2 linked regions of the Homo sapiens genome follow. Changing the gene in region 2 together with the main gene of any one other region gives a genetic interaction. Each region holds a gene or a part of one and is shown on either strand. Other genes may lie near its edges.

Region 1 (16,593 bases), on a different chromosome or scaffold from region 2:
TCTTGGGCTGGAGTGCAACGGCAGGATCTGGGCTCACTGCAACCTCCGCCTCCTTCAAGCAATTTTCCTGCCTCAGCCTCTCCCGACTAGCTGGGATTACAGGCACCTGTAATCCCAAGCGATTTTCCTGCCTCAGCCTCCCCCGACTAGCTGGGATTACAGGCACCTGCCACCCAGCTAATTTTTGTATTTTTAGTAGAGACTGGGTTTCACCATGTTGGCCAGGCTGGTCTCAAACTCCTGACCTCAGGTGACCCACCTGTCTCAGCCTCCCACAGGGTGCCTCCTTCTAAAGCCAACCTTCTTCCCTTCATTCCATACTGTCCCTAGAAAATACCACGCCCGCCCCCTCCTAGAAAGTCTCCTTCTTGAGTGAGGAACCCCCTCCCCCTCAATTCCTGGGCTGTATTTCACTATCTTTAGCATCTCTTGGACTTTGAGCTAGCTGTTTCAACTTCCCAGTGAGTCTGTCCCAGTAGATGCCCCCTGCTCTAAATAGCACCCTCTGCGATCCGCAAACATTACAAGGACATCAAAACAAAGCTATCAGCTGGGTTCCTAGCTTTAGCAGCCAGTCTAAACTCTTTTGTTTGTTTCTCAGACAGCTTATTGACTAGGTGATGAGGTCAGAAGTTTTCTTTTCTCCTTGGCTCTTCAAGAAGCACCTGCAAAGTCAGGGAAGGTAGAAAAAGTCCACTCATTTAAGATTTCAGATGAACATCATTTTTCTGAGCATCAATTGCTTACCAGCCAACAACTTGTAGGGGTGGGAGACGACCAAGGGAGAAAAAGATGGGAACTTAAAAAGCAAAGATAACCTCCACCCTTTCCCATCTTGTATTAATGTGGGCATAGGCAACCCACTTGATGAAATGTTCTCAGAGACTCTGCATGTCCACATGAAGGAGGAGAAAAGTAGGTGAGGGCAGGAAGCTGATCAACCGTATGATAAATGCAGCTGTTGTATGTGACAAGCTACCTGTTTTCTTTCATCAGGCTCTTTCACACTTCTCCAGCCCACTAAAAGAGGGTCCTGGCTCCCCACCTGTCCCCTCCTTCATAACACACCACCCCTCACCCTGACCCCAACAGTTTATCTTTGCATATTGGAAAAACTGGCATTTATCAAGTAATCTACTCCTCATAGGTTGTTAAACAGACCACAGGGGTTATCAGTGGGGCTGATATAGGAAGATAAACAGCAACCTCTTATGCAAATAGCACTAAGAATGTGGGACTGGCCACAGGACAAAAGCAGAATTTAGGAGAACATGAATCTTAACACTTTTCTTCAGTTGCAACCCTGGAAACCCACAGGAACCTGGAGAAGGTTCTCTTGGGTGGGATTTCCCCTCCCTTTCTTGCAGGGAGGGGCAGGTGTGTCAGGAGGTGCAGCCTGCTTTGCAAGGCAAGGTGGCGGCTTCACGTCTGATGAGGCAACTCCTTTCTGTGGCCACAACCTTCTCCTCTGCGCAACAGCCGTTTCATTTTTTCTGAGATTTCGGACCCACTGGAACGTGCTTAGTTCAGGCTGAGGAGGAGTCGGACTAATTGAGAGAAAGAGAAGGTGTTCTCCCAGGTGAGAGTCGGGGGTCAGAGGGCAGTAGGAAAAAAAAATGCATAGAAAACAAGGAGTTCTGGGTTCCAAGATGCAACCCCCATGACCAGGAGATGCTCTTCAGATCTGCCTTTGCTGGGAAAGAGGCGGGAGGTGGCCTGGGGTCCAGGTGGCATCTTTTCAAACCCTTCTCATTATTTAAGGGCAAACTCACATCAAGAACCAAGAGGAGAGTGGCTCCAAGTGACAAAAGAATTACACTTAGAGGAACATAGCAAGCGGCTTCTCACACCAGGCTGCAGGCTGGGGAGGGGGAAAATGGGAGCAGAATGACAGAATCCAGGGCTGGCCAGAATGAAAGACTGAATGGAATAGGCTAATTTACACAGGAAGTAAGCACTTACCAGACCCTTCATCTCAACACACAAAACCCTCGGCCATATCTGGAAGCAATTACATCCAGTTAACATGATCTGCTTGCCACTAAAATTAACTGCAAACAGAAATATTTTTCACTTTTGCAACAGGGGATGCCAAGGTTTGGCCTATTCTCCCCCCCAGCCGTTGAATCTGGCTGCTGGGGAATATTTAGCAGCTACTCAGCTCAAAAAAACAAAAACTACTCTTGTAGCTGTCAGGACACAGAAAGTAAAATAGTGGATAATTATGAAGGGGGGAAAGGCGCGGGAGAGGTGGCAATGAAAACCATTGTGCTAGAAAGTGAGGAAAGGGGCCAGGCACATGGGCCCTATATAGGTCTGCATCCCTGACAAGTCCAGTCTGGTTTTCCACACTGAACTTCAAGGAAAGAAAAATGTTTTTAGAGTCACTCGATTTAGCAGCCGCTTCACATTGTTTTTAGGTACCATCTTTATCCCTTCTGCCAAGGGGGCGGGGGTGGGGGTGGGGGGAATGCAGGGAGGTAGACTCACAAATGTTAGCGGATCCTTAATTTAGCAGATCATTTAGGGGACAACTGTCACGATTTAACTTTTGCATTGAACATTTCCAATCCCTACTCTACAAACGCCTTCGAAGCAGCTTTCACCGGCTCTAAGCGGGGCAAGAGCTGCTTTTAATTTGAGACGTACACAGTTTTTCCACGTAAAGTGAAGAGAAGCCCACGAGGAGGTGAGAACTTGCCTCCGTGAGCGTGCGTGCCCAGAAATGAGCCAGTGGCCCTTTCTCCAAAACTCCAGATCCAGCCGCCCGACTCGCTGGCCACTCTAGTCCTTCGGCTTTGCAATCAGCCCCGCAATCAGATAAGAACTTATTTTTATTTTTCCTTGAACTGCTGTCAACGATGCCATAAATGCCAGAGACAGATGGACAGATTTCTTTTAAAGTTCCTGAGGAGGCGTCATCTCCAAACCCTTCCCCCAGCGGCCCCTCTTTTCTGGGCCAGATTCCGGCATGCTTTCCCCGAAAGTGCAGTTCACTCCTTTGTCACCAGGGGCCTTTAAAACGGCAGCGGCAGCAACAGCAGCAAAAGTAACGCATCCATTTGCCAGACAACTCACAAACATTTTTTCTCAAGAAGAGGCAGGCAGAAAAGTTCCCCTCAAGAATGAGGTCAGACACTGCTGTTCTCTGCAAAAATCACACTTAGAAACATTACTCATGGGAGAAACAAAAGAAAACGAACAACTTAAGTAGCCTTTCTTTAGGACTTTGGGCTATGATGGGGGGAAAACTTTTGGTCTTGATCTGTTAAAGAGCAAAAAAGCACTATGCCATTCTTTTTAATTTTTAAAAACTTAGGCCAGGCGCAGTGGCTCACACCTATAATCCCAGCACTTTAGGAGGCTGAGACAGGCAGATCACCTGAGGTCGGGAGTTCAAGACCAGCCTGGCCAACATGGCGAAACCCCATCTCTACTAAATATATATATATATATATACAAAAATTAGCCAGGTGTGGTGGTGCACCCCTGTGGTCCCAGGTACTTGGGAGGCTGAGGCACGAGAATCACTTGGACCCAGGAGGCGGAAGTTGCAGTGAGCTGAGATCGCGCCACTGCACTCAAGCCTGGGCAACAAAGTAGGACTCTGTCTCAAGAAAAAAAGAAAAAAAACCCTTAATTTTACAATGGAAAAAATACTGAAGTATACACATCCTTTCAAGTATACAACCTGAGGCCACACCACTGGCCGGACGCTGGGCCATGTATTCTCTATACATCACCTACTTAACAACACTGCTCTACCACCAGTATGAATCAGAAGTTATTAACTTCATCTCACAGATGAGGAAGTGAGTGGTGAGGAATCTTGCCACGGTCACACAGCCTCTAAGAGACAGAAGATTAATTCGAACCCAGGTTCAATTCCAGACACAATGCTCTCCAGCTTCTTACCACTTTGCAGCCAACAATCGCAGGAAATTTAGATGCTGCAAGAATGCAAGAAAAAGAAAAAAGAAAAGGAATCCTCCCATGAAATCCACCCACTCCCAGCAACAGCCCCTGCTAGCACGTGGGGGTCTCTCCTTCCCCTTGACCACCCCACACACACATGTACCTAGGCACATACGCTCACAACACGGCTCTGTCACTGCACAGCCGTCCAGGCATGGAAACGGTTAAGTCGCCCTCACTGCATAAATCAAAAGTTCAAGGCTGCAACATACCACAATGATTCCCTCTTTACATATGACAAGAACCAGAGAGGGGCTGAAATCCCAAGCATCCTGCACAGGGTCTCCCCGGCCCGCACAGGTTATGCCGCCAGGGTCAGGGCCGCGGACCTTTAGCGGCAACATTCATTTCCTGAACAGGACAAGTTCTCCTGACCATAAAGCTAATAGGAACTTCCTCGCACGGCGAGCTCCGGCTGACAGGGCTACTTGTCACTGGCCACGCAGGAGGAGAGCACTGGTTCCCATTAGTGGGTTATGATGCCAGGTGCTACTAATAAGGTACATCGGCAAGAAACAAGAGCCTGCTAAGTTGTCTCTCCAACTCTGGAAGTAATCAGGCCTGGGCTTCGGTGTTGGGGAGGGACGTTCCTTAAAGAGATGGGTTGGGGGAGCTGAGGGTTTTGCCATAGTAGACCCCAGCAGCACCTAACCTGCTGAACAGCTTAAATAAATTTCCAACAATCCCTCCACATTTCCCCCAGCTACCATAAAAAGCTCCCCCAAATTAACACTAATAATGGTTGCCCCAGCACTGTGGGCCCGATGGATCACGCTAAGGGCCATTATGGTCGGCCACATCTGCTTCTCACTATGGCAAGGAGAGCCGTGCCAACAGGCCTAATGGCATTAAGATCACAACGCTGAGCTAATCCACTTAGAGCACAACGCCGGGTGAGGGTGGCAGGGGGCTCAGCGGCTCCCTTGTCAGGCTGGGGTCATGAGAGAAGCAGGAAGTAGGGAGGTGGCCTCACACTCTGTGTGCTTTAGGTTACAAGTGATCTCATTAACATACTTTAAAAACCACATTGAGAGGTAGGGGCTAACCTCACTTCACAGAAGAGGATACTGCTGCTTCACAGAGGTGAAGTCATTTGCCCAAATTCACCATGGAGCACTAGTATTCAAACCCAAGTCCATCAGACGTCAGTCTTTCTGCCCCTGCAGTGCCACCCCATCTCCCACTAAGACGATGGTTTGGTGGCACATTTGACTTGTTCTCAGCAAGCCTGGTGGTGGTGGTTTATGTGCGTGTATATGTCTTTTCTTCTTATTTCTGGGGGAACCGAATGGCCCTAAAGAGGAAAGAACTCTAAAAACCACTTCAAATGGCCCAGAATGTCCCCCCTTCATCAAAATGTCTGTGACAGTCTTCTAACAACTTTCTCAGTAACACCCCAGTGTCTCAGGAAGTCCTTTCTCTTACCTAACTTGGACCCTTTCTACTGCAATGCTGAACACAATCTGTTCACACCGAAGAAAATCAGGTCCCGAGGACACAGTTGAAAGTGAGCTAGGAATTTAGAATTAAGGTTTTTCTAAGTATTTAGCGGAAGTTTCCATGCTGACAATAAAGTACCGGATCCCCTCCTTGCAGCTGCAGAGATAAGCCTCACGTAGGCAAAACCCAACCATAGTTTTTCCAGACTGCACCAGCATAATAAGGACACCGGGGCTTTTAAGGGGAAACAGTAGAAAGGGGAATTTCTGATTATGCTGGCATGAAATTAACAGCATGGGATTTTTATTTTTGTAAATGGGTTTCTTTTTTCTCTCTTTTTCTGTTTTTCAAGTCAGCATAAAAGGCCTCTATCACTAGAAGCTGATCTCTCTGTGTTGGTAAGAGATGACGTACTAGTCCTTGGATCCATGCGGCCTGGGCCCCTAAAGAGCTGAACCCTCTGCAGTAACCTTCCTCCTCGCAAGAAGCCACCAGAGGAACTGAGGAGGCCAGAGCTGGTGAAGCCATGAGCCCCCTGGTCACCCAGCTGCAGAGAGCATGGAGCCAGAAGACCTGAACATAAATCCTGGTACAACTCTTTTTTTTTTTTTTTTTTTTTTGAGACAGTCTCACTCCTTTGCCCAGGCTGGAGTGTAGTGAGTGGCATGATCTCGGCTCACTGCAAGCTCTGCCTCCCGGGTTCACGCCATTCTCCTGCCTCAGCCTCCCGAGTAGCTGGGACTACAGGCGCCCCCCACCACGCCCGGCTAATTTTTTGTATTTTTAGTAGAGACGGGGTTTCACTGTGTTAGCCAGGATGGTCTCGATCTCCTGACCTCGTGATCCGCCCGCCTCGGCCTCCCAAAGTGCTGGGATTACAGGCATGAGCCACTGCGCCCGGCCTGTACAACTCTTTACTAGAGAAAAGTCCACTAACCTCTTGGGCTTCTCTCCGCCCATCTGAGAATGTGAAACTGATACCCACCTTACAGGACAGCTAGAGGTCTTACAGAGATGCTGGCTGTGAGTGCACTTAGCACAGAATCTGACATGTAGCAAGCACTCAAAACAATGTCTGCTGAGTCCACATTTTAGAAGCATCCTGCACTGACAGGCAGGAAAGGGAAGGAGCTCTGGAACCCCCAACACCCACAAGCCCAGCCCCAGGACCCCCATCAGTAAGGTGGTATCTGTGCTCTTCATCTCTCTCATAAGCACAGTGATGTGCACGCCTGGCCACGTGCACAGGCAACAGGACACCGCATCAGTGAGCCTCCCCGGCATTTGGACCCGATGGCAGTGGAGCGCTGCCCGGCTAAATTTAAACGAGAACTGGAATGACTCACCAGGCCTCAGGTCAATGGGACAAAGAGTACCCTGGCCACCACAGTACAAGAGATCAGCTTCTGGGGAAGACGCAGAAGCAATGTCTCAGCCCCAAACATGAGGTGCCCGAGGCAGCAGTTTTACAGCACTGTACGGATTGACGCCTATGCGGAAGAACGGTCTCAGGGAGAAAGCAGGATCTGGACCAACATGAACACATTTTTCACCCTGCATGGCTAGCATGACCTACTTCACACAATGACAAGAAAAATACCCTAGCAAACACTTATGGAGCACTTACTTTGTGCCACCGTTCCTCACACAGGATAAATATTTTCTGATGAATCCTTATAACAACCCAATGAAGTAGGTACTACTATTATTTCTGTTTCACAAATGAGCAAACAGGCACACAGAAGTTAAGTAACACAACCACTGTCACAGTTAGTAAGTAGCAAAATCAGAAGTCTGACCTGGACAGTCAAAGTGCTCATTTCCTATCTGTAAAACGTGGGGGTGGGGAAGAGTTGTAGCAAATTTCTTACTACTTAAATAACTGCCAGAGAGTAAGAGCTTTCACCCCACACACCCAGCCAAAACAGAATAGAAAATCTTTAGTTATGGAAAATTCAGAAACCCTCCAATGGACAAACTGAGGCACACCTGTATTCATTTAGTAAGACTCTAAGTCATATATACTTGGGCTTTCAGCAGGGCTTGCTTTAAATTAATAAAAAAAATTAAAGTGATTGGAAAAGTTTCTCTCCTGAATTAGCAAGAAATCAAAGAGCTGTGAATAGAATTTGATTTTAACAGTTTAGGATAATCACTATTTTAAAGATTCATAATAGTTTTCCTAGAACGAGCAGGAGGAAAACGTGTTGCTAAACTATAGCTTTCTCCCTCCCAGCAATTAGCGGCTCCATCCAATAGTGATGGCAAATTAAAATGGGACTTCTCACTGAGATGAAAGAGTGGGCAACTTTCCTCCATTGAAAATAAAATAAAGGAAATCATCTTCAAAAGTTCCAAGAGTTCAGTCTAGATCCCAGATGGCTCAGTAACCCTAAGCAGGTTAAAGTATTTTAAAAAAAAAAAAAAAGTCAGAACACACAGAATCAAATCAAACTGACCCCCTACTTAACTGGCTGAACTGCCAATCCAGATTCCAAAACAGCAAAATTCAATTAACCAAAAGGACTTCATGAAGATATAAGTGGGTACACAAAGAATAAAAGAATTTTTTAAAGAGCGCAACAATCCAGAAAGAGCTCACTGAAGTGCCTAGTTTTAAAAATGAAGAAGTTAAGGCTCACGATGAAAAAAACGATGTCAATGGTGACAGAGCTGAAAAACGCAGAGCTAGGTCTAGACCTGGCCTCACCACTACAAAGCCTTCTGCCATCTTCCTATCTTCACAACCAACAACCTCTCTCCAAAAGACCAGATTTCCAGGAGCCCAGGAGATTATAAACTTGTCATTCATCACCCCTAAAAAGGATACTTCCTGGAAATGGAAATGGATTCAAAAAGGATTTTGGCAAATCTGTGAATGACAAGGCAGCCATAAATAGCTACTAAGAGAAGCTACACCTGACCTTTAGGATTGACGTCAAGGAAGATGGTTGTAGCCTCCAATGGTGGTATCTTAGGCATGGTGATGGCAACCAAAGACTAGGTCAGATGGATTTGACCCAGAAGAGCAATGCTCATGTTCTTATATGGCCTGGTGCAGAGCGCCCAGGACTGTGAATTAGAAGGCAAGCTGAGTGCCTGGTTCTACCCATTTATAGCTGTGTGACCATGGGAAGTCACTTACTTGCTCCAAATCTCATTTTCCTCATTTGTCAATAGAGAATGATAATCGTTCATAATCCCTTATCCAAAACCTTCAGGTGCTTCAACGACCAAAACTGTTCAGACTTTAGAAAGGTACTCTGGGCCGGGCGCGGTGGCTCACGCCTGTAATCCCAGCACTTTGGGAGGCCGAGGCGGGTGGATCATGAGGTCAGGAGATCGAGACCATCCTGGCTAACAAGGTGAAACCCCGTCTCTACTAAAAATACAAAAAATTAGCCGGGCGCGGTGGCGGGCGCCTGTAGTCCCAGCTACTCGGGAGGCTGAGGCAGGAGAATGGCGTGAACCCGGGAAGCGGAGCTTGCAGTGAGCCGAGATTGCGCCACTGCAGTCCGCAGTCCGACCTGGGCGACAGAGCGAGACTCCGTCTCAAAAAAAAAAAAAAAAAAAAAAAAAGAAAGGTACTCTGACACCTATCGTGTTTAACAGCCCCAGCAGAGTCTAGGGCAGCACTCTGTAATCAAACACATTAATATTTTTGCAGCAAAACATATGAATATTCAAACTAAGCAGGATAAATATAGCCTCACATCAGTTCAGATCAGGTTTTGCCACTAAATGAGTTTACTGCAAACTTTTTAGTTTTCAGAGCTTTTCAGACTTCATTATCACAGATATGGGATTATGGACCTGTACCCACTCAAGGAAGGCTGTGAGGGCAAGAGAGATAAAGTCATTAGAGGTGCTTTGCAAAGAAGAAAATGCTGCAACCGATAAAAGGTATTATTAATATCATTGCTGTGGCTATCATTATTCTACAGCATACCCTTTTCCAAACAGAATTTAGTTTGACATCAGAGGTTCTGGACGGGATGATGAAAGAAAACCAAGAGTCTCAGGAAACCTCAAAAATCCCAAAAGTAGCCTAAACCAAGGTCAACACCTGTTGGCCTTCTACATGATCAACCACTAAAAACAGAGCAGCTGACCATCTGAGAGAGACCAAGGCCAAGGGCCAGGCAGAACTCTGATATCTTAGCCACAAAGCTCATGCACCGTACAGCTGGCTCCACAAAGCCTCTGGGAAGGGCTGTACACACGGATCCAGAAAGCTGGCTCAGACATTCCCTGTGGTTCCTGAGAATCCCTTCAAGAACCAGGCAATAGGCCGGGCGTGGTGGCTCACACCTGTAATCCCAGCACTTTGGGAGGCCGAGGCAGGTGGATCACGAGTTCAGGAGATCGAGACCATACTGGCTAACACGGTGAAACCCTGTCTCTACTAAAAATACAAAAAATTAGCCGGGCGTGGTGGCGGGTGCCTGTAGTCCCAACTACTTGGGAGGCTGAGGCAGGAGAATAGCGTGAACCTGGGAGGCAGAGCTTGCAGTGAGCTGAGATCGCGCCACTGCACTCCAGCCTGGGAGACAGAGCGAGACTCCATCTCCAAAAACAAAAAGGAACCAGGCAAGAGTTGCGACGGTGTCTGTGCAGGACATCCACTGCAGCTGACCTAAGTGCTTGTCTGTATAAGATCCAGAAACCAGACCCCATTGTGCCTCTGCAGCACTAAATTCAGAAACACATAAAGACCAAGCTGCGTGAGCCATGGGAGACTAGGGACTATAAATGAGGACTATGTTCACACTTAAGTCTATAGAACTATACTGTTCCCTGCAATCTTATCGCATATGTACGTAACTCTGAGAATGATCAGGTGCTCCTGGCCTGGATGAGCTGGTTCCTAGACCATTTCCAGAGAAGCCTACATGCAGAACTGCTCCAGCCTTTTGGAATAAGAAAGGGAGGGCCCAGTGTTCCAGAATCCTGAGATGATCTTCCCCTCCCTCAGGCATTATCCTCTGTAATGTGGATGCACTGGTGAAGATTTGGGGGCCCAAAGCTTGCTCCTTCATCTGCCTGCAGAATACTGCTTATCTATCAGATCTTCCCACTGTTCTGACTTCCTTCTGGTTTGTTTAGGTAAGTCAGTCCCATTGGATGCCTTTGTCTGGTCTTCCCACCCATCCATGACTACACTTGACACTGCATCCCTTTTACAGCACGTCATTCCTGCAGTGGACGGCTTGTACATCTTGCTGTCCGCTGCAGGAAACAGGCTCTACAACTCCACTAAGTTTGATTCTCACTATCTGTTGAGCCAACAGCTTACCCTTCACTCCACACCAGCTTGGGATCAAATCATGGGGAAACTTACCGATGACATTCCATAATAAACTCCCTGCCTTCCTGCCTCACTTACCAGCAATCCGCCTTCATTTCCTCTCCATTCCCTTCTGCCCCCCCACCCCAAGAAGAAATGCAAGAAGGACTGCTGGGTATCTAGTCTTTACCAACACTCAGGCCTATTGACTTAAAAATAAAATAAAATAAACCCTGTAGCCTGTTATTTTATCACTGATATATTTCCAGTGAATGCCATGGCTTCCTGGCCTCAAAATCTCCCCTTCTGATTTTTTTTTTTTTTTTGTCTTGGCTTTTTGTTTGTACTGGTTATAGGGCTGTTGTTTTTTTTTTTCCACCATAGCATTTCTCAGACTGCTGATGGGTTGGGGGGAGACAGAGAACAGTAGAAAAAAGGGAATAGCACATTAATCCTGGAGTTTTGAGGGTGAGGGGGAGAAAAAAAGCCTTCTACAAAGTACATCTAGCTGGGACCCGAGGGGCTGTTGATCTGAGTGAGGGCTGAGCACACGCAGGATTATTTTCTCCCCTTTCTGATTTCTTTAGACCCCCAAGCTTCCCATCAAAGGCACTGCCCCTGGCTCTAACTTCTTGGGCTGCAGCTGCTGACTTTCCACCCTCAGTCAAAAGCACATTCTCGGCCCAGCAGGGTGGCACACACCTATAATCCCAGCACTATGGGAGGCCGAGACAGGTGGATCACTTAAGGCCAGGAGTTCCAGGCCAGCCTGACCAACATGGTGAAACCCCATCTCTACTAAAAATACAAAAATTAGTCGGGCATGGTGGTACACATCTGTAGTCCCAGCTGCTCAGGAGGCTGAGGCAGGAGAATCACTTGAACCCGGGAAGTAGAGGTTGCAGTGAGCCAAGATCATGCCACTGCACTGCAGCCTGGGCGACAGAGTAAGACTCTGCCTCAACAACAACAACAACAACAAAAGCACATTCTTCCTGTCAGCAGCCCACATGTGACACGGAGGATTCCAGGGCCAGTGTCTTGCTGTCATATGCTCACAAGGACAGGGACATTCTCTGCACCACCTCACAGTCAACACAACCCTCATGGAGGGTGGCACTGTGGACACTACACACTAGAACTCAGAGCCAATGAGGACCATGCAGAGATGAGGCCTAAACAACACAAGGGACAGATGGTCAGTTCTCCACCGCTGCGGTGACTATGTGCCCATCACAGCTCTAGTGATTTCTGGATCTTACTTCATTAATTCAGCACCAACCCTGTTGACCGTCTCCATTTTAAGAAGTGAGTGAAGGCCGGGCGGGGTGGCTCACAGCTGTAATCCCAGCACTTTGGGAGGCCGAGGTGGATGGATCGCAAGGTCAAGAGATCGAGACCATTCTGGCCAACATGGTGAAACCCTGTCTCTACTAAAAATACAAAAAATTAGCTGGGCGGGGTGACAGGTGCCTGTAGTCCCAGCTACTCAGGAGGCTGAGGCAGGAGAATCGCTTGAACCCGGGAGGTGGAGACTGCAGTGAGCTGAGATCACGCCATTGCACTCCAGCCCGGTGACAGAGCGAGACTCCGTCTCAAAAAAAAAAAAAAAAAAAAATGTAGTGAGTGAAACAAGGCCCAGAAAGGTTAAATAAGTATCACAGGCTCTCACCACTAAATATGGCCAATTCCAATACCCAGGCTCTTTCGAATATAACATGGCCAACTCTCCCTCTCTCCCCAGAGGAATGAGGGTCTTGCTGAAGGGGAACTTGGAAGTCTCAGGAGAGTGGTATCTTTTGTGGCCCTCTCGGGTAAAGAAAAGCAACCAGGAACCAGGACCTGATGAGAGCCAGAAAAACAATTACTTCCCACCATACCCAGTTCTCATAGCACACAGCCGAAATAATTCACATCCGGAAAGATGATACATCTATCTGGTCAACTTTGGGGAGCGGGTTTCCTCTTTAGGAAAGTTTGAGCAAAAACAAACACAACCTCAGTCTATTTCTGAGCGGTACAAGCATCAAGAAGACACACCTTAGTGGCGGTTATTTTTCGCACCCACTGGAAAAAGTCGGCTACGTTTAGCTCTGCCACACTTTCCACAAGTTAAGCCTCTGAGCTGTCGAGGAGGCAGGGTCAGAGCAGATTCCGGCTAGGGGTGATGAGATCAACTTCCAGATATCCCCACCCCAACCCCTCTCACTCACATCCCCCGTACCTGAACGAGCAACAGGGGAATGGGGGTGAAGGGGGAGGAAGTGGAGAATCCACCCAAGATCAGCAAAACAGCAGACCACAGGGTATGCAGCCAAATGCTGTCGTCAATGACAACAGAAAGCTGGATTTCTTGACTCCATTCATCTGACCCAGAAACTAGAGGATAAAATGATGGGCACGTGGTTTATGACAGAAGCAAGGAAAAAAAAAACAAACTCGCTACTTATCCCCCCTGTTATTTACTCCACTTCCTATAAGCAATCTTCAAAACGCTCTGTTCCATAGACATGATCCTCTTCAAGTCTAAGTGACTCCAAGAGGCAGCAAAGTACCAGGGGGTAAGGACCTAAATTTGAATCCAGCTCTGCCTCTTACTATCTATGTGACCCTAGAAAAGAGACTTGACATCTGAGCCTTAGTATTGTTCCATGTAAAAGAAGGACATTACCAGCTGGACACGGTGGCTCATACCTGTAATCCAGCACTTTGGGAGGCCGAAGCAGGCCGATCACCTGAGGTCGGGAGTTCGAGACCATCCTGACCAACACGGTGAAAGCCCGTCTCTACTAAAAATTCAAAATTAGCCAGGTATGGTGGTGCGTGCCTGTAATCCGAGCTACTCGGGAGGCTGAGGCAGGAGAATCACCTTAACCCGGGATGCAGAGGTTGCGGTGAGCAGAGATCACACCATTGCACTCCAGCCTGGGCAAGGAGAGCGAAACTTCACATCCAAAAAAAAAAGAAGGACATTACCTATCTCAAAGGGCTGTTGTAATGAAAATGCAACTCATGGAAAGTGCTTAGTACTGAACCAAACATGTCATAAGAGCTCAATGAATGGTTATTTCATAGAGAAGGAAACGGAAGCCGGAGGGAAGCCAATGCTAGCCTGAAGCGGCATTTAGTTCAGTGTGAGCAGAGATGGGATAAGAATGAGACTTCACAGGCTGCAAGACCAAGACTCTTATACCCATCCTTTCCCCTTGCATTTAAATCAATTCCCCCTAAATGCATGTGCAGGATCAGAGAATGAGAAGGGAGACAGAGCAAGGAGATTAACTTTCACCAGGAATAAGGTTCAGAACCTGCAGCTGCTCTTGTGGCTTAAGCAGCCCCCAGACCCTCCCATTCTCCCAAGCTGCAGAAAGGGACAGGCTGTCTTCACAGGGACCACTGCATGGGAACCCGAGGACCTGAAACCTAGTAACATGGTCAGATGCAGGGCCCAAGAGACCCTCATCCCACTCCTTTTCTCCTTCTCTCCATTTTATCAGTCACTCCAAGCAAAGGAGAACAGACCAAACAGCCGAAAAAACAAACAGGGGCCCAAAAGCAAAAAACAAAGGGAAGGGCCTATTAAGAAGCTGCGCCCATGAGTGTCCCCTGGTGCTTTTTGGAAAGATCCTAGGCCCCCTCACTACACTTTAAAAAACCTGCTCCCCTCCCCGCCAGAACTTTAGAAGAAGTGTTCTGGTTTTTTCACAAATTGCCAAGACAGGGGAGCCAGGCCCCTAACTTGGGAGCAGCCAGGGTGTGAAGGAGGGGTGTGAGGGCCTCAAGTCCTACATCAGGTGCGGGGCTGGAGCGGGGCCTACCTGTGCTGCTCCACAGCCTCGTTATCAGGAAGCTCGACCCCACACACGCTGCACTGCTCTCCGATGGTCCGGCTCTCTGACTTCATGCCCACAGCCAGCTCCCCCAGCTTGCTGAACAGCTCCCTCTGGATGAAGCCCTGGGGCAGCAGCCCCCCATAGGTGCTGAAGTCCATGGAGACAGCCAGGGCAGGCTGCACGTGGAGGCCAGAGGTCACGGAAGACGGCATGCTCAATACAGCGTCAGCCTTGTGGTTGGGCAACACGGAGTAGATGCCCAGATGCTTCTCAGGCGGGGGTGCTGGGTGCTCAGGTCGGCCAGTGGGGGCCTGGCCAGCCTCAGCTGGGGGTGGCACCTGCTCGGCACTCTCCTCTCGCCCATAGTGTAGCTCCCTAGCACTGGTGATGACGCTGCTTCGAGTCGGGGTCCCAGGCCCCTCTTTGCCTCTTTCCTCAACCTTGTCCCCCATCCCTCCTGAGATGCTGGACTCGGCTGCCCCAGGGCTGTCCTGGCTGGGCACCTCATCCACCTGCATCATCTCCGTCTTCACCTCAGCCACCCCAGGGTGCCGCCCACCCCCAGCCAGAGTTGGCTCCTCGGGCCCTGCAGGTGGCTGAAGAGTTCCCTGCAGGAGAGACTGTCCTATGGTCATCAAACTGTCCACTGCAGCCTTGGTGGGACTCATGGCTGAAAGACCAAATGAAGTGGAGACTGAAGGGCTCTGGTCCACCATGGGCCCAGGGAGGCTCTGTCCAGCCACACTGGCATACCCACTCTCCTCGCTGGAATGCTTCGAGATGAAGATGTTCTTGAGGTACCGAGCCTTGCGGTCCTCTTCTTCCTCGGCCCCGCCATCGGCCATGGTGGCCTCCGTGTCATTGTCGTCTGAGGCCTGGATGGTCTCCAGCATCTTCAGGCACTGTTCCTCCAGGTACTCGATCTCCAGGATCTCGGCCGCATACAGCAGGTCATCCAGGTCCTCCGCCTTGGCTTGCAGCGTGGCTGTATATGCATACTCCAGAATCTGCTGGAAGGTCTTTGGCGAGAGGAAGTCCAAAGTATAGTGTTGACTATTGCGGTGGAAGAGGATCTCAAACATCTTGCTGGTGCAGGCCAGCACCGTCCGGTGGGCGTGGAACTCCTGGCTGTCCACCATGATGACCACATCGCACAAAGTCCCGGCCAGCCGCATCTGGTTGGCCTTGCACAGTAGCCCCGTGGGGTGGCTAGGGTTCTGCAGCTGGATCATGCCCATTTTTGTCAGATCCATGGTGCTCCCCTCGGCTCAGGCATGAGGCTTTCTTTCCTTCTGGGCTCTGCGTGGCGGGGCTGGGTGGGCTTCCTGGGCCAATAGAGGAGGCTAGGAGAAAGAAGAGGGGAAGAAGCAAAAGAGATGAGAGAACAAAAGACAAATTCATCAGTGTCCCTAAAAGTAAGAATTCAACCACTACAACATGCCCCCTCCTCCCTGTTGCCAAGCCCTTAGCAAGAGGATCTTAGAGATTTTAATTGAAGTAGCTTCCTAGAAATCTACAAATCTGCCTTTCAAGCCAGGGATGCTGAGAGTAAAAAGAAGGTTCTGCCACAGCAGATGCCTAATTCACTACTCTATGACATCTGTTAGATGAAGTGAAATGAAAATTGTAGTGAAGTCCTATAAGTCCTCAGCTTTCTCTGTGTCTGAGAGTAGGGGCTCCCTAGGCAAGGCCAACATTCATTATGATGAAGTGCACTTACTTAAAATTAGCAAGACTTTAGCCCCTTCCTTGTCAGCTTCACGCCAGCCCCCTGGATGTCAAGCCTTATCTTTAAACAGTTTTTCCAAACTCTGCCTCACTACAGGAGCCCCAGAAGCAGAGTCAAACTCATTGGAGGCCAGGAGCCTGTAGCCATGGCCACAGAAATCTATGGACACTGGGCTCTCCTCCGCAAAGGCTATCCTCTCACCATCAGCCTTGGCCTCTGGCCTTCTACTGTTCTCAGGGCTGCAAAGCACTGGCAGACCCAAGGCCTGTCCCCATCCCTAGGTACTAACAGGAACACACACAACCCACACACTAACTTGGGTCATTTCT
Region 2 (15,838 bases):
CCTGGGCGACAGAATGAGACTCAGTCTCAAAAAAAAAAAAAAAAAAGAAATTCACGTGTAGAAACGACTTGTCTATCGGCAGCGAATATGTTAAATAAAATACTGTGCATCCAACGAGATCAGGAGATTGAGACCATCCTGTCTAACACGGTGAAACCCCGTCTCTACTAAAACTGCAAAAAATTAGCCGGGCATGGTGGCGCGCGCCTGTAGTCACAGCTACTCGGGAGGCTGAGGCAGGAGAATCACTTGAACCCAGGAGGCAGAGGTTGCAGTGAGCTGAGATCATGCCACTGCATTCCAGCTTGGGCGACAGAGAGAGACTCCGTCTCAAAAAAAAGTAAAATAAAATAAAATAAAATACTGTGCATCCAAGCAGTGGAAGACCAGCTGTGAAATGACATACAGCCTTAAAAAAAATTCTGTCTATATATCTCCACTTGTAGGTAGAGAAATGCAAACATGTCCATGTGTTCATATGTTCACAGCGGCATTATTCATAATAGACAAAAACTGGATGCAGCCCAAGAGTCCATTAACTGGCAAATGGATAAAGTGTGGTATATCTATACAGTACAATGGAACATTATTCTGCAATAAATGAATACTACAATGATGAACCATGAAAGCATCATGCTAAGTGAAAGAAGCTAGACAGAAAAACAACAGTGTATGTCCAGATAAAACGTCCAGAACGGTGTTAAAAGAAAAACACTGGTGCTTGCTATGGCAGCACATATACTAAAATTGGAACCATACAGAGAAGATTAGCATGGCCCCTGCAAAAAGAAAAAAAAAAAAAAACACCGGTTATTACAGCTTGGTCTTTGCCTTATTTGAACACGGTTTGCATAGTTTGCCATGTTTGATTGGCCAAAACTCGGTGATTGGCAAAGAGTAGGCTATGGTCTGTTTACAACTCCATTTAGGTTATAGTTCACAATGTACAGAGAAACCTTTAGGCTAAATTTAAAATATGTAAGGAGGCAGCTTTAGGCTACAATTGAGTTAACAAAGGCAAATCTATGGAGGCAGAAATATGAGTGGTTGCTTGTGACCGCAGGTGAGATTGGAAGTGATTACAAATGCGCACAAGGAATCCATTTTGGATGGGTAGAAATGTTCTAAAATTGGATTGTGGTGATAGTTGCATAACTCTATTCATTTTATTAAAATTAATTGCTTTGTACTGTTAAAAATGGGTGAATTTTATGGTATATAAATTACACTTCAATAAAACTGTTAAAAACTCTGTATGAACTCATATGGAGAGATGGCCACACAAACTGAAAAAAGCTAGATGCACAAGTGTGTATAAAAATAGATGTGCAAAGAGATTATTTCTGTAAGGATATCCAAGTAACAGTAAACAGTGGTTGTTCCTGAGCAGACAGCCTTGGAGATCTGATATGGGAGATTTTTCTTTGTATACACCCCAAGCACAGCATAAAAAGTTATTCTTAAACATACTTTTTCAATTTAAAAATTAATTTAAAACTGAAAATACATATGTGCACATTTATGTTTAACAAAAAAGAACGAGGAGGACATAATGCATCACATTATTAGTAATTTACCTATTGTTCACTTTTTTCTTTTTTTTCTTTTTCTTTTTTTTTTTGATAGGGTCTCTCTCTGTTGCCCCAGGCTGGAGTGCAGTGGCATAATCATGGCTCACTGCAGCCTCCACCCCTGTGGCCCCCACAGGTGGGTGCCACCACCCTGGTTAATTTTTTATTTTTTTCCCACGCAACAAAAGCCACATTTAAAGTTTTGTTTTGGGAGTCTCGCTCTGTCGCCAGGCTGGAGTGCAGTGGCGCGATCTCAGCTCACGGCAACCTCTACCTCCTGTGTTCAAGCGATTCTCCTGCCTCAGCCTCCTGAGTAGCTGGGATTACAGGTGACTGCCACCACACCTGGCTAGTTTTTGTATTTTTAGTAGAGACGGGCTTTCACTATGTTGGCCAGGCTGGTCCTGAACTCCTGACCTCCGGGTGATCTGCCTGCCTTGGCCTCCCAAAATGCTGGGATTACAGGTGTGAGCCACCGCACACCAAAAAACTGCGAGGTTTTTTGTTTTTTGTTTTTTTTTGAGACAGGGTCTTTCTGTGTCATCCAAGCTGGAGTGCAGTGGCACGATCTTGGCTCACTGCAACCTCTACCTCCTGGGTTCAAGCAATTCTGCCTCAGTCTCCCTAGTAGCTGGGATTACAGGTGCGTGGCACCATGCCCAGCTAATTTTTGTATTTTTAGCAGAGATGGGGTTTTGCTATGTTGGCCAGGCTGGTCTTGAACTCCTGCCCTCAGGGTGATCCGCCCACCTTGGCCTCCCAAAATGCTGGAATTACAGGCATGAGCTACCACACCAAGCCAAGGTTTTTCTTTTTTTTTTGAGACAGGGTCTTGCCAAGCTGGAGTACAGTGGCACAATCTTGGCTCACTGCAGCCTCGACCTCCTGGGCTAAAGCTATCCTCCCACTTCAGCCTCCTGAGTAGCTGGGACTATAGATGTGCGCCACTACACCCTGCTAATTTTTGTATTTTTTGTAGAGATGGGGTTTTTTGCCGTGTTGCCCAGGCTGGTCTCAAACTCCTGGACTCAAGCGATCTTCCTGCCTTGGCCTCCCAAAATGCTGGGATTATAGGCATGAGCCACCAGACCCGCTGTAATTTTTTAAAAATTTTTACTAGAGATGAGGTCTCACAGTGGTGCCCAGGCTTGTCTGCAACTCCTGAGCTCAAGCAATCCTCCTGCCTTGGCCTCCCAAAGTGCTGGGATTATAGGCGTGAGCCACCGCACCCAGCCCAATTTTTCTACAGTAAACATGCATTACTTTTTGTTTTTAAAAGTTTGAAAGCAGGCTGGGTGCAGTGGCTCACGCCTGTAATCCCAGCACTTTGGGAGGCCAAGCTGGGAATTTCGCTTAAAGCCAGGAGTTCTAGAACAGTCTGGGCAACATAGCGAGACCTCATCTCTACAAAAAATAAGAAAATTAGCTGGGCTTGCTGGCATTTGCCCGTACTCCCAGCTACCTGGGAGGCTGAGGCGGGAGGATCACTTGAGCCCAGGGGTTTGAGGTTACAGTGAGCTATAATCTTCAAGCCTGGGTGACACCCTGTCTCAAAAAAGAAAAAAAAAGTTTGAAAAAACGGAGGCTGGGCATGGTGGCTCACGCCTGTAATCCCAGCACTTTGGGAGGCCGAGGCGGCAGATCACGAGGTCAAGAGATCAAGACCATCCTGGCCAACATGGTGAAACCCCTGTCTCTACTAAAAATACAACAAAATTAGCTGGGCATGGTGGCGCACGCCTGTAGTCCCAGCTACTTGAGAGGCTGAGGCAGGAGAATCACTTGAACCCGGCAGGTGGAGGTTGTAGTGAGCCGAGATCGCGCCACTGCACTCCAGCCTGGCGATAGAGTGAGACTCTGTCTCAATAAATAAATAAATATAAAATGGAAATAGTGACCTGTGTTTTGCCCACTCATGAGGGTGTTATGGGGATCTTATTTGTATATCGGAAATTTAAGCAGGACTGCCAAGCTTAGGGAAAGGACCCAGTCACAACTCATCTGGGGCTTTTCCTGGGACATTAGGAAAGAGGTAAAGTAGAAATCTCCATTCAGGGAGTGGGGAGACTCAGCAAATGTTTTTTGTTTTGTTTTGTTTTTTGGGGGGTATAAACTTGGAGAGCTACTGTATTTCTTGAATACGAGATGCCATCAAATGTAAAACTCAGTATTATTTTATGCTTTACTAAGGAAGAGAGAAAAAATTGTCAATTAAACAATGACACACCTTTGATTATATGTCTGGGTTTCTTTTTTTTTAAGACGGAGTTTTGCTCTTGTCCCCCAGGCTGGACTGCAGTGGTGCTATCTCGGCTCACTGCAACTTCCATCTCCGGATTCAAGTAATTCTCCTGCCTCAACCTCCGGAGTAGCTGGGATTACAGATGCCTGCCACCACACCCAGCTAATTTTTGTATTTTTAGTAGAGGCGAGGCTTCACCATGTTGTCCAGGCTGGTCTCAAACTCCTGACCTCAGGTGATCCACCCGCCTCGGCCTCCCAAAGTGCTGGGATGACAGGCGTGAGCCACTGCGCCTGGCCTTGATTATATGTCTGGGTTTCTAAGATGTTAAGTCTGAAAAATGTTTGTATTGAAATAAATCAAACAATTTTGTAGCTGCACATCTCTCACTTCCTGTTAGGTGGGTGGACCGCCTTACCACCACCATCCTCCAGTCACTGTGTCTCAAACCTGATGCCTTCCTGCCCCTAAATGTTTCTTCATCCCCACTCCAGGCAGCAAGTCTTGCCTTTTCCACTCGAGCTGCTACCTGCTGCAAGATGTCTCACCCGGACCACACTACACTAGCCTCCGAACCAGCCTGCTCATCTTACCCCTCCACTCCATTATTCATGCTGCAGCCAGCATGATCTGTCTACAACTCTGCTCATCACAGGCCCCTGCTTAAACAGTTCCATAGGCTGCATTTCCTGCAGGGTGAGGTCTGTGCAACTTGGCATTCGGCTTTTTAGGACCTGGGCTCTGCCTGCCATTTTACTCTCCTGGCACTTCCTCCAAATGGAATTACTTGCTACTTCCCCAAAGCACCGTATGTTCTCAGGCCTCCAGGCCTTTGCGCCAGTTGTTTTCTATGCTTGGACTGCTCTTCCTCAACAAGTATTTACTGAACACATAGTAAGTGCCGGGAGCTGAGAACGAGAGCGGGGAGCAAGGCAGGCAGGATCTCAGTCCTTAGGCTGGTGGGAGAGAGAAACAAATAAAACCGTAAGCATATGTGGTAATTATTAATTATAAACACACGTGGTAGGCATTCGTAAAAGTTTGTTGAAAATGTCGGGGAGGGAACTTAAGAGGGCGGGTCAATAGTTGCAGCAAACCACCGTGCACACGTATACCTATGTAACAAACCTACACGTTCTGCACACGTATCTTGAAACTTAAAGTAAAATAAAAAAAAAAAAAAGAAAAGAAAATGTCAACCATGGCTTCAGAAAGCGGTTAGAGTCCAGGATCTACCAGTGACTACCTATGTGACTTGGGGCAGCTGACTGCAGGCGTCTCCACCTCTGTGTAATGGAAGTAATAATGCCCGCCCACAGGACGGGAGGAATTAATATGAGATACATACAATCTGGCGGTTTCCGCCGGGCCGGAGGGGCTCTCCCACTCCAGGGCGCCGAGGGTCCGCCTGCCCAGGGCCGGGCCTCGCTGCAGGCAGCTGTGGGCGCCACTGTGTGCGCATACCTGCCCCGACAGCCGGACGGTCGGCCGAGCCCAGACCGCGGCAGCCAGGGTCAGGGACAAGGGACGTCGGACGCCGGGCGGGCGAGGGGAGCGTCGCCCCGCCCATCTCCCCACTTTGGGGGACAGCCCCCCTCGCTCATTCCCGCCTCCACCCTTGACTTGAATCACTGTTGGCGGGGGACGGGGCGTGACCCATTCATGCCGGGAATCGGATCCAGATGTTCCCGCGGCGTGTGCAGCTGCATCCTTGCCTTTTTTGGCAAAAAACGTGCGGCCGCGAGAGGATCCTGGGCCGCCCTTGCTAATCCTTGGGAAGAGGGGGAAGGGGGCTGAGAGGGTCTGGGCCCAGACTGGGGATCGGAACCAGGTCCTTGCTCTGCGGGCTTTGGGCAGGGCTGTTGGCGGAGGAGACTATTCGTACCAGCCAATTAAGGAACCCCACCGCCACCCTGGCTTTCATCTGGAACCTCCCCCAAACCCCTCCCTTCCCTACATGAGGGAAAAAGCCCTCTGCCAGCAGGGAGGCAGGACGAGCTCCAGAGGGAGGGTAGCTGTGGCGGGGATCCCCTTCATGGGGAGAGACTTCCCACCCCATGGCCCGGCCCCCCTCCACCCCACCCTGCAAGGATGAGGTCTAGCAGAGATTCTGAGCCTCCCAGTCTGCAAAAACCCTTCCTTCCCCATTATACCCTGAACACACACACACACACACACACACACACACACACACACACACGGAGGCCCCTGCTTCCTCACACCGCTTTATTGCAGAATCTGGAAGGGGGATGAGCCAATCTCACCCCTCTGCCCATCTATGGGCAAAATGGAGCTGAAATAAAATGAGAAGACACTCGGTGGCGACCTGCTGGGCAGCACCCTGTACCCTAGGGCCCCTTATCAGTGGGCTCCTGATCTGCTGCCCCCACAGCCTCAACCGCGGGGATGGGGTGGGGCAGGTCAAGCCTGAGAACAGTCCACTTTCAAGGACTTCCCAGGCACCCATAGGAGACCTGAAACCTATAAAGAGAAGTCTAGATTTAAGGGGGCCTAAGTCCCAGAGTCCAGGTTTGGAGGGCTCGGGTCTAGAGCCCTGATTTGGGGAGAGGACTCAGTCTGGGAACCCAGACTGCAGGGGAGAGGGTGAATTCTGGAGTCCAGGTGTGGGGAGGGGGCTTGACTCATGGAGGCTCTGTAAGAGCCCAGGTTTGGGGCCCTGGGTCAGGGAGTACCAGTTTGGGGATGCTGGAGTGGGGAGACAATCCTGGAGCCCAGAAGGAGACCCATTTTTTTTGGCGGGGGGAGCTGAGTCCCAGAGGTGGTTTAGAAAAGGAGCCACAGTCCTGGGCCCGTGGTATGGGAAAGCCTGGGTCCAGGAGCCCTGGCTTAGGGCCCTGCCTGGCTACAGCCCTGGCAGAGCACTTGGTCTCCATCCGGTACGAAGCCCTGGCCCACCAGGGAGGTAGAGCAGCGGGCGCAGGAGAAGCAGTTGTGGTGCCAGTGTCGGTCTTCAAAGGACACATACTTGCCTCCACCGAGTCCTGGAGGGAGGCTGGAAGTTAGCTATGCAGATGTGGGGATGGTCCGGCCCTCAACCTCACCCAATACCACATCCCACTCCCTTGCCTGCACCCTACCCACTCCGTTCTTTGACCCTTGTCCCACCTACGATGGGGCGCTTGCAGCTGCTGCACTTAGGTGCAAAGAGTTCTCCAAAACAGGCCACACAGTAGGGATCTTCATCCCGGGAGGTGAACTGCTGCCCTGCCAGGGGCGTCTGGCATCCGGTACAGACCAGACATTCTCGATGCCACGGCTGATCACGGTATGTCACTCCACCCTGTGTCAGCGTCTGTGGGGGCAGCATCCATTAGTAGGTATGAGTGGGGATTCCCACCCCACAACAGGCCTCACTCACCCCCACCTGGCTGGCCCAGCCCCCACCTTGCTGCAGCGGGCGCAGCGAGGAGCAAACTTGTTCTCATAGCAGGGCACGCAGTAGTGAGCACCCTTGTCGGGCACAAAAGAACGGGAGCCCAGTGGCTGTTCACAGCCACTGCACAGGAAGCAGTGCTCATGCCATGTCTGGCCTCCATATTCCAGCTTCCGGGACCCTGTGGGGAACAGGGGTCCCATTTAGAGGTTGTGTCCCATGCTCCTGAGGGCCACCCTCTGTAACTTCCCCAGGAGTCTCCACTCCTCTCTCAGCGTGAGCAGGGTGGTGTCCGTGCACATGCAGCAAGAACCCCCCCGCCCTATGTATATTACACATGCTAACCTCTCCCCAGACACCGGACATGATGACCCAGCTAGACACGAGGGTTTTGGCCTATGTTAAGCCCCCATATGTCCCAGAGATGACAATTTCAGCACACATCAAGCCTCCATGTAACAGTCATGAAGTCTCACTAAGAGCTAAGCCCTCATATAACAGATGTGATGATTTTAGCACTCACATGGGACCCCACATGTACCAGGCAAGTAAGTATCTGCCCACACAAAGTTCTAATGCCCTGGGCATGACAGGTTCGGTACATGCTAAGCCCTCGCATCTCCTCGGCACACCATTCTCCATAGGTGCTGAGTCCCAGCATTTCTATTAGGCATGCAGGTCCCCACACATGTTAAGCCCTCTGTTTATCTGCTTCTGCATACATTAAGACCCAATGCAACAAGCATGACAGTCTCAGCACACCTCTAGTTCCTACCTGTACTAAACATGCAGATATTCACACATGCTAAGCCCCCAAGTATGTATCACATGTGTCAATCTGCCTGTACATAGTAGCCCCCAGGAGTATACCAGGCAAACAGATCCCGTATATACTAAATTTCCAGAAACATGCTGTGTATGCAGGTCTTTACACAGACCAAGTCTCCATGTATCAGACAGACACATGCAAAGACCCTACGCAGATGCCAGTTCTCACACAAGATGAGCCCCTGAACACATACCAGGCATGACAGTCTCCCCACAAGCGGAGCACTGCGAGGAAAACGCACTGCAGTAGCAGTCATTGCAGAGCAGCTCACTGTCCTGGCAGGTGAAGGGTTCATCGGCTAGTGAGCGCTGGCAGCGGCAGCAGCGGAAGCAGCCCTCGTGGAAATGGCGGTCTTCATAGAACAGCTCCTGTGGGGAACACAGCAGGGGCACTGGCACCCAGGCCTCATGGACCCATCCTTTGCCCCCTTCCACTGGTCACCACCCACCTCCTGCCTGGCCTGGCCCTCTCCTTACCCTCGAGTCATGCCCGATAAGCTGCTGGCACTCAGCACAGGTGTTGGCAAAGGTATTGTCATAGCAGGGCACACAGTAGGGGCCGCTGTCTGTCTGGATGTACTTGCGTCCATACAGGGACTCGTTGCATTTTGCACAGTCAAATGACTCGCTCATGGTGGCAAGGGGAGAGAACCCTGTTAGGAGCACAAGGTGGAACTGGGGTCACACAGAGAGGCTGTGGCTTGGCTCCTGGCAAAGAGGCCTCTGCATTCAAAACACAGCCAAGAGACCCGGCATAGGAAATGCCAGTTCAGAGTAGGTGGGGATGGGGAAGGGGTGCTTCTGGGAAACCAGGAATCCCACATGTTTCTTTCTGTATTTAACTCGGGGTAGGAAGAGGTCAGGAAAAAAACCAGGAAGCAGAAGTTGTTTTCTTATCTAGGCCCTAGCAGATCTAGGGGGAGGGGGCTTTTCCTGGGTCAGTGACTCATTTCCTGTCCCAGCCAGCGTCTAGCCTCCACTGTCCCGACTGTCCCCAGCGTGGGAGAAGCAGGGGCAGGGAGCCACCCCACTCTACTCCTTATGAGCAGTACTCCCACCCTCTCCTGACTCCCAGGAAGGGACTTTAGGAATATGGATAAAGGAACCCTTAACCAGAGCTCTGGAGTACAGAACTTAGAGACGGGAATGGGCTGTGCCTGCCCCTCCTGATCCAGAAAACAGTGGAATGCTAGAGAGGTGCTGGACTAATGAATGGTAGAAGAGGCCAGTGTGAGAGGTTGGGCCTTCCCTCCCGGGGAATCAGCCAAGCAATGGGAACTTCAGAGGCTCAGCTTAGGTTCAAGCAGGAAGGAAATCCTGCAAGCTGGACACAGCCAGTCTTCCCTAGCTAGACCCTCTGCCCTCATCCCCCCACCCCCGCTGTGTCACACCAGCTTGGACAGCCTTGGCCTGTAACATCTGCAGCAGCTGTGGCGGCACAGATGGCCAGATGTCAGGTTTTGCCAGCAATGGGGAGAAAAAAGGAAAATGAAGTGTCGGGGGAGGCAGAGGGGAACTGGAGACAGACTGGGAGTGCAGTGTACCCCCTGCCACCTCCTGCTAACATCTGGCAAAACCCCAGGATCTTTCCATCCCCTGGGGTCATGATTTCCCTCCTACTGCCTCTGGGAGAGAAGGTCTCTCCCACCTTTTCCGATTTCTCAGGGTTTGGGACTAGGGAGCTGAAAGGAGAGAGAGCAAGAGCCACTGAAGACATTTTCTCCCCAATCAGGCCCCATCTTGGGTGGGGAGTAGGACAAGGGGGAGCCCTGAGAGCTGCTGCTGGAGACACCCAGCCCCCGACCAAACCTCAGACACTTTCCATTTTCTCAGGAACAAAGCATGTTTGTGGGATGAGGTCATCCACACAGCTGCCTCTGGAACAGGAGCCTAGGGAGTGGAGCGGTAGGGAAGTGGGGTTCCCAGACCTTTCTGCTGCCCCGGATTCCAGTCTCTAGCCCCAAAGTCAGAGCTCCCACCCCTGCTCTCCTCCATCATGAAGGCTGCTCTCTAAGGGCTGGGATCCTGGGGTAGTGGAGAGGAACCACCAGGACCCATAGGAAGGAGATGTTCTCACAGCTGTGGATGAGCCCGGGGAAGTTACAGGGACACACAAAGGAATCCACCAACCCACTCTCCCACAAGGCTCCAGTGCTGGCAGTCGCCAGGGCCTGCCCTGGCTCAAGCTGAAGGAGAAGTCCTCCTTTTCTCATCCACCCCCAGTGCGAAATTCTTGACAACAAGCGCTGCTCTGGCTTGAAGTTCAGACTCCAGGCACCAGCAGATGCCCCCAGCTTGGAGGCCTGACTCTCCATACATCAAGCCTCTGCGCAATGGGAGAACAGCCAGCTTGCGCTCCAGGCCAGGGCATGAGGCCACCAGGGGCCAGGGTCTTTAGAGCTGGAACTCCTGGGCTGGGGGCTATGGTGTAGAGAAGATACTCCTCTTTCTCAGCCCCCTTCCTGCCACTCAGGCCCAGGTTTCCTCTGGCCCAACATCTGAGGATTGCCTGGGCTGTCAGCCACGGGGCAGCAGGGGGCCACACAGGTGGAATGCGTCCACAGGGGGTGCCTGGGCCTCTTCCTTCCTTCTTGGCTTGGCCCACTGCGGCTGCCACCTTCTCAGGCCCAGGCTAGACTTGGGTCCACCCCCTGAGAGACAGTCAGCACTCCGAAACCAGGGCAACCCAAATAGGGTATGGGCATGGCTTCTATTTCCTTCCCAGAATCCCCCAATGCCCTAGTCTATCCAGCTGGGCTCTGGTGAGGACAGAGTAAAGGGCACCAACAAGGCCCACCTGTCTCTGCCCATACCCCTCTCCCTGCCCTTTTCCCTGGCAAGGCTGGGGACTGCGGGGACTGAAGGGAGCCAGCCTTGTATTCCTTCCTGACCGGCAGTGGGGCGGGGTTTGGGGGAGACTGCTCCTCTACAGATGGCTCACAACCCTGCACCTCCAACAATCTCCCCTCACAAGGCACCTCCCAGTGAACCTCCTGGAGCTCAGAATGACTGCGTAACTGGCTATGGTGTATGGAGCAGCTCAAGCTGTAAGGTTTGAATCCTGGCTCCTGCACTTACTGGCTGAGTGATCTTGGGCAAATCCCTAAGCCTGTTTTCCCATCTAATTAAATGAGATACTACCACTTCCTACCTCCTAAGTTTGTTGTCAGGCTTAAATGTGATGATACTTGTAAAGCACCTGGCAGATAATAAATACTCAGAAAATGGTAGCTATTAGTATTTTACTATTAGCGCCCTCACTCATACTGGGGCCAGATAGCAGTTTCACAGGCAGGTCTGGGTCAAGCAGCTGGACTGGAATTTTTTTTTTTTTTTTGAGACAGAGTCTCGCTCTGTCGCCCAGGCTGGGGTACAGTGGCGCAATCTCGGCTCACTGCAACCTCCACCTCCCGGGTTCAAGTGATTCTCCTCCCTCAGCCTCCCGAGTAGCTGGGACTACAGGCACCTGCTACCACGCCCGGCTAATTTTTTGTATTTTTAGTAGAGACGGGGTTTCACTGTGTTAGTCAGGATGGTCTCGAACTCCTGACCTCATGATCTCCCTGCCTCAGCCTCCCAAAGTGCTGGGATTACAGGCATGAACCACCACACCCTGCCTGGACTAGAATTTTTAAATAGAGATGGGGTCTCAATATGCTGCGCAGGCTGGTCTCAAACTCCTGGGCTCAAGCTATCCTCTTGCCTTGGGTTCCCAAAGTGCTGGGATTACAGGCATGAGCCACAGTGCCAGCCCAATTTTTTTTTTTTTTTTTTTTTTGAGACAGGGTCTCACTCTGTCACCCAGACTGGAGCGCAGTTAACTCCATCTCGGCTCACTGCAATCTCCACCTCCCAGGTTCAAGCGATTCTTCTGCCTCAGCCTCCCAAGTAGCTGGGATTACAGGAGGGCACCACCATGCCCAGCTAATTTTTGTATTTTTAGTAGAGATGGAGAGTTTCGCCATGTTGGCCAAGCTGGTGTCCGCTCAGCCTTTTTGTTTTTTTTTTTTGTTTTGAGTTGGGGTCTCACTCTGTTGCCAGGGCTGGAGTGCAGTGGCACGATCATGGCTCACGGCAGCCTCGAACTTCTGTGCTCAGCCAGGTGAGGTGGCTCACACCTGTAATCCCAGCACTTTGGGAGGTTAAGGCCGGTGGATCACCTGAGGTCAGGAGTTCAAGACCAGCCTGGCCAACATGGTGAAAACCCATCTCCACTAAAAATACAAAAATTAACTAGGCATGGTGGCGGGCGCCTGTAAGCCCAGCTACTCAGGAGGCTGAGGCAGGAGAATTGCTTGAACCGAGGAGGTGAAGGTTGCAGTGAGCCAAGATCATGTCATTACACTCCAGCCTGGGCTACAACAGCAAAACTCTGTCTCAAAACAAAACAAAACAACAACAAAAAAAACAACTCTGGGCTCAAGCAAACCACCTGCCTCAGCCTCCTGAGTAGATGGGACTACAGCCATGTGCCACCATGCCCAGCTAGGTTTTTCTATTTTTTGTAGAGATGGGGTTCTCACTATGTTGCCCAGGGTGGTCTTGAACTCCTGGCTTCAAGTGATCCTCTGGCCTCAGCCTTCCAAAGTGCTGGGGTTACAGGCGTGAGCCACTGTGCCCAGCCTGGTCTGAAATTTGACCTGGACATTCTCAGCATAGGCCCAGGGAGAGAATAGGGGGCCCCAGGCCCATGGGGCTTGCTGAGGACACCAGTGGGGAAAGTGGTCGCTTCAGTCCGGTCAGCCTGACTCTAGTAAGCTTAACTCTTGAGATCTCTCATGCAGGTCCACGGATGTAGACACCTGCATGCTGCTTTGCCACTCACAAAGTCCATGCCCACCACAATCTCATCAGATCTCACAAAAGGCAGGCAGGACAGAGTATCATCCCCATTTTACAGCTGAGCACAAGGAGGCCAGGAATAGAGCAGGTTCATGCCCAAGGTCCCGATCAGGACCCAGGTCCCCTGCCTCCCAGCCCAGAGCTCTTCCCTCTCCCTAAAAATGCTGCCCTGGTGATGAAGCGGATGGTGACATGGGGGTGGTCAGTTTTTAAGGGCAGGGGAACAGGAGATGCACCAGAGCCTGGCTCTTCTCCTCAGCTGCTAGCCCTGTGATTGGAAGACACCCAGAAGCCTTTCCAATGCCCCATGCCAACCATTCAATCCTTCTGCCCCCACCCCCAACATGCCCACTGTCCAGGAGGACCCTGGCCAGGTCCCACAGCTGTGAGTCAGGATCAGAACAGACCCCTCCCCCACCTTCTAGAAGCTGACAGGAGACTTAAGGGGAGAAATCCAACTCCCTCAACCCTCACCCTCTGCTACCGGGCACCAACCCCAAGCTCTGCTCTCCCCCATGTGGCCTGGAAGTCAGAGAAGTTTAGGGAAGGGGGTTGGGGAGCAAGATCCCGCAGCTGCTCTGGGGACATGAGAGGAACAGTTCATTCACCCTGGGTCCCCCAGGGCTGAGGCAGCCCATCCAAGATTTGAGTTCAAAAATAAGTTGGGGCTGTCTTGGTGGCTGTGTGTGTGCGTGGGGCTCTTCTTGATCTCGAACTTACTGTCTCAGGGCCTCTGCCTCATGGGGGATCGGTAGGCTCAGAGTTTCTGTTTCCCCACAGCCTCACCTCCCAATGGTTCAGGCCCGGGTAAGTCAGGGGCTGTCCTGGAAGCTGTCAGACCACCTAGGTCTCTCTGCCCCCACTTAGTCTCAGTTTCTGGTGTCTGTCTCTGCTTCACTCAGCATCTCTGTGTCTGGGCACACTTCAGTCTCTGTCTTTAGGTTTTGGACGGCTCTGTATCTTGACTGGCTGTCCCCCAGGGGGCCCATGCCTCTGTGGATCTCAAGTCTTGGTCTCTTCTTGTCTACATGGCTGAATGTCTCAATCCCCACCACCTCCCTTTCTCTGTCTCTGCATCCAAGTCTCTTTCGCCACCTCTGCACGCCTGAATGTCTCTGTCTCTAGTCTCTGAGCGTCTCTGCAGGCCTCAGAGAGCAGATTCAGCATGAGGCCAATGACGCCCAAGCCTCAGGGCACCTCCAAGGCCCGGGGAAGGGCCCTAGGGAATGTGTTCGCTGGGGTCCCACGTATGCTTTTTCTGAAAATGCTCCACAAAGCCTAGGACGGCCCCCATGCCTCGGGTCTGTCCACCAGTAACTCTGTACGCCCGGTGTGTCCTTGTTTCAGTGGTCTCGGTAGCCTCCTGTGCCTCGAGTCCCTGCCTGTCTCGGTCTCTCGCTCCACCGGGCTTTCCGAGAACCTCAGTTTCTCCAGCGCTTCTGGTCGGTCGGTCTGTCTGTCTCTCTCCGGCTTTTCTATTTCAAACTTAGCCCCCTCCCCCGCCCAACTCTCGCTGCCGCCCCCGCCCCCGCCCCGCCCGATAGCCCGGAGGGGTCCAGTCCCGGCGGGCGCTGTCCCGGGCTCGGCGTGCCCCGGGCACCCGTGGCCAGAGCCCGGCGGGTACAGGGGACCGGGGCCGCGGCTGGCCTCAGCCCTCCGCGGGTCCCTTCGCTCCCCGGCCTGGGCGCGGGGGCGGACCGCCAGGGCTGGGAGCCGGGGTCGGCGGGGCGCTCACCTCGAAGCGGGCGGCGGGAGCGGGGAGCGCGCGGCGCAGGCGGGGCCGGGAACCGGGCGCCGCGTCCCTCGGCGGCTCCTACCTGCGGGCCGGGCCAAGCGGGGGCCGAGCGAGCTGCCGGCGAGGCTGCCGACTGCAGACGGACCGTGTGGGCGAGTGGGAGCGCGGCCCCAACCCCTCCCCGAGGAAGTGAGCGCGGGCCCGCCCCGCCCGGACCCCGCCCCCGGCCCCCCAGCCCGCCGCGGGGGCCAGACCCCGCCCCCACCTCCCTTTCGGCCGCCAGTCGGCCCGGCCCCCTCCTCCCGCCCGGCCTAACCTGGCTCTCCCAACCTTCAAGCGGCCGGGACCCCGCCCCTGTCCCCTCCCCGCAGCCTCTGTTCTCCTCCCCTCCCACCCCCCATCCCCAGCTGCCAGAGGGAGACTGCTGTATTCCATCTCAGGCCGGCGACACGAGACCCCGCAGACCATGGTCCACTGGGGGAGTCCTCTGGCCTCCTCGGATCCCCCCACCCCTTCACCTTACCCCAGGGGTGACACTCAGCCCGGCCTTAATCCAGCCTGGAGGAGGACGTTTTGACTCTGCTGTCATGAGCCTGTCAGCGGGCACCAAGGTGTTCTCTGAAAACATGGGACGAAGAGAGGACCCCTCCCCACCATAGGGCCTTGACCTCCAAAGGGTTTTATTCCACAACTTTGAGTAGCAAAAACAGGGGTAACCACCTCCCCACTTCCAGCAGCCTCCTGACACTGAGAAGTCCTGCCTTGCCTGGGTTTCCGCAGTGCCCAGGAATAGTTTTGACCTTTGAGGCCCGGGGGAGACCCTAATCCTCGGCCCCATGATCTTTGGGCTTCTAGGGTGGGGTGTGAGGAGTGTGAGAGGATGGGGCACCTCAGGGGTGGTGGAGGAGAGGGGAGGGGACCTCTGCGGTGTCTGAGCCTCTGGCTTCCTCCCTGTGTCCGTGAGGGAGGACTGGCGCCTGCTAGGGACACGAGGCCCCTCCAGGTCCTTAAGGCCACCCCCCCTGGGATCCTCAGGCTTGTCACTAGGAATAAATAGCCTCAGTCTGGAAGAGGTGGGGGAGGGAGGGAGGCAGGAGGCTCTACTGTGCTGTTTGTGGAAACAAGAGACAACAAATCAACCCCGGAATAACCTTAGCATCTAGAGTGAAGATTCAGGTGCCCACAGAGGCCTCCCCACACCCCAGGCTGGGTGTAGCAGAGCTCTC

Evidence for each region.
Region 1: of FHL3 (region 2) and ZBTB16, changing one enhances a phenotype caused by changing the other (phenotypic enhancement), as found in Homo sapiens cells (one study listed by BioGRID).

Annotation. Positions count from the first base shown.
Region 1 is NC_000011.10:114,062,496-114,079,088, reverse strand, and holds part of ZBTB16 (zinc finger and BTB domain-containing protein 16), read right to left. Parts: intron 15,879-16,593; 5' UTR 15,789-15,878; coding exon 14,521-15,788; intron 1-14,520. UniProt on the Homo sapiens protein: Acts as a transcriptional repressor. Transcriptional repression may be mediated through recruitment of histone deacetylases to target promoters. May play a role in myeloid maturation and in the development and/or maintenance of other differentiated tissues.
Region 2 is NC_000001.11:37,990,745-38,006,582, forward strand, and holds FHL3 (four and a half LIM domains protein 3), read right to left. Parts: upstream 14,771-15,838; 5' UTR 14,613-14,770; intron 8,689-14,612; 5' UTR 8,669-8,688; coding exon 8,513-8,668; intron 8,405-8,512; coding exon 8,230-8,404; intron 7,389-8,229; coding exon 7,219-7,388; intron 7,127-7,218; coding exon 6,940-7,126; intron 6,816-6,939; coding exon 6,661-6,815; 3' UTR 6,026-6,660; downstream 1-6,025. UniProt on the Homo sapiens protein: Recruited by SOX15 to FOXK1 promoters where it acts as a transcriptional coactivator of FOXK1.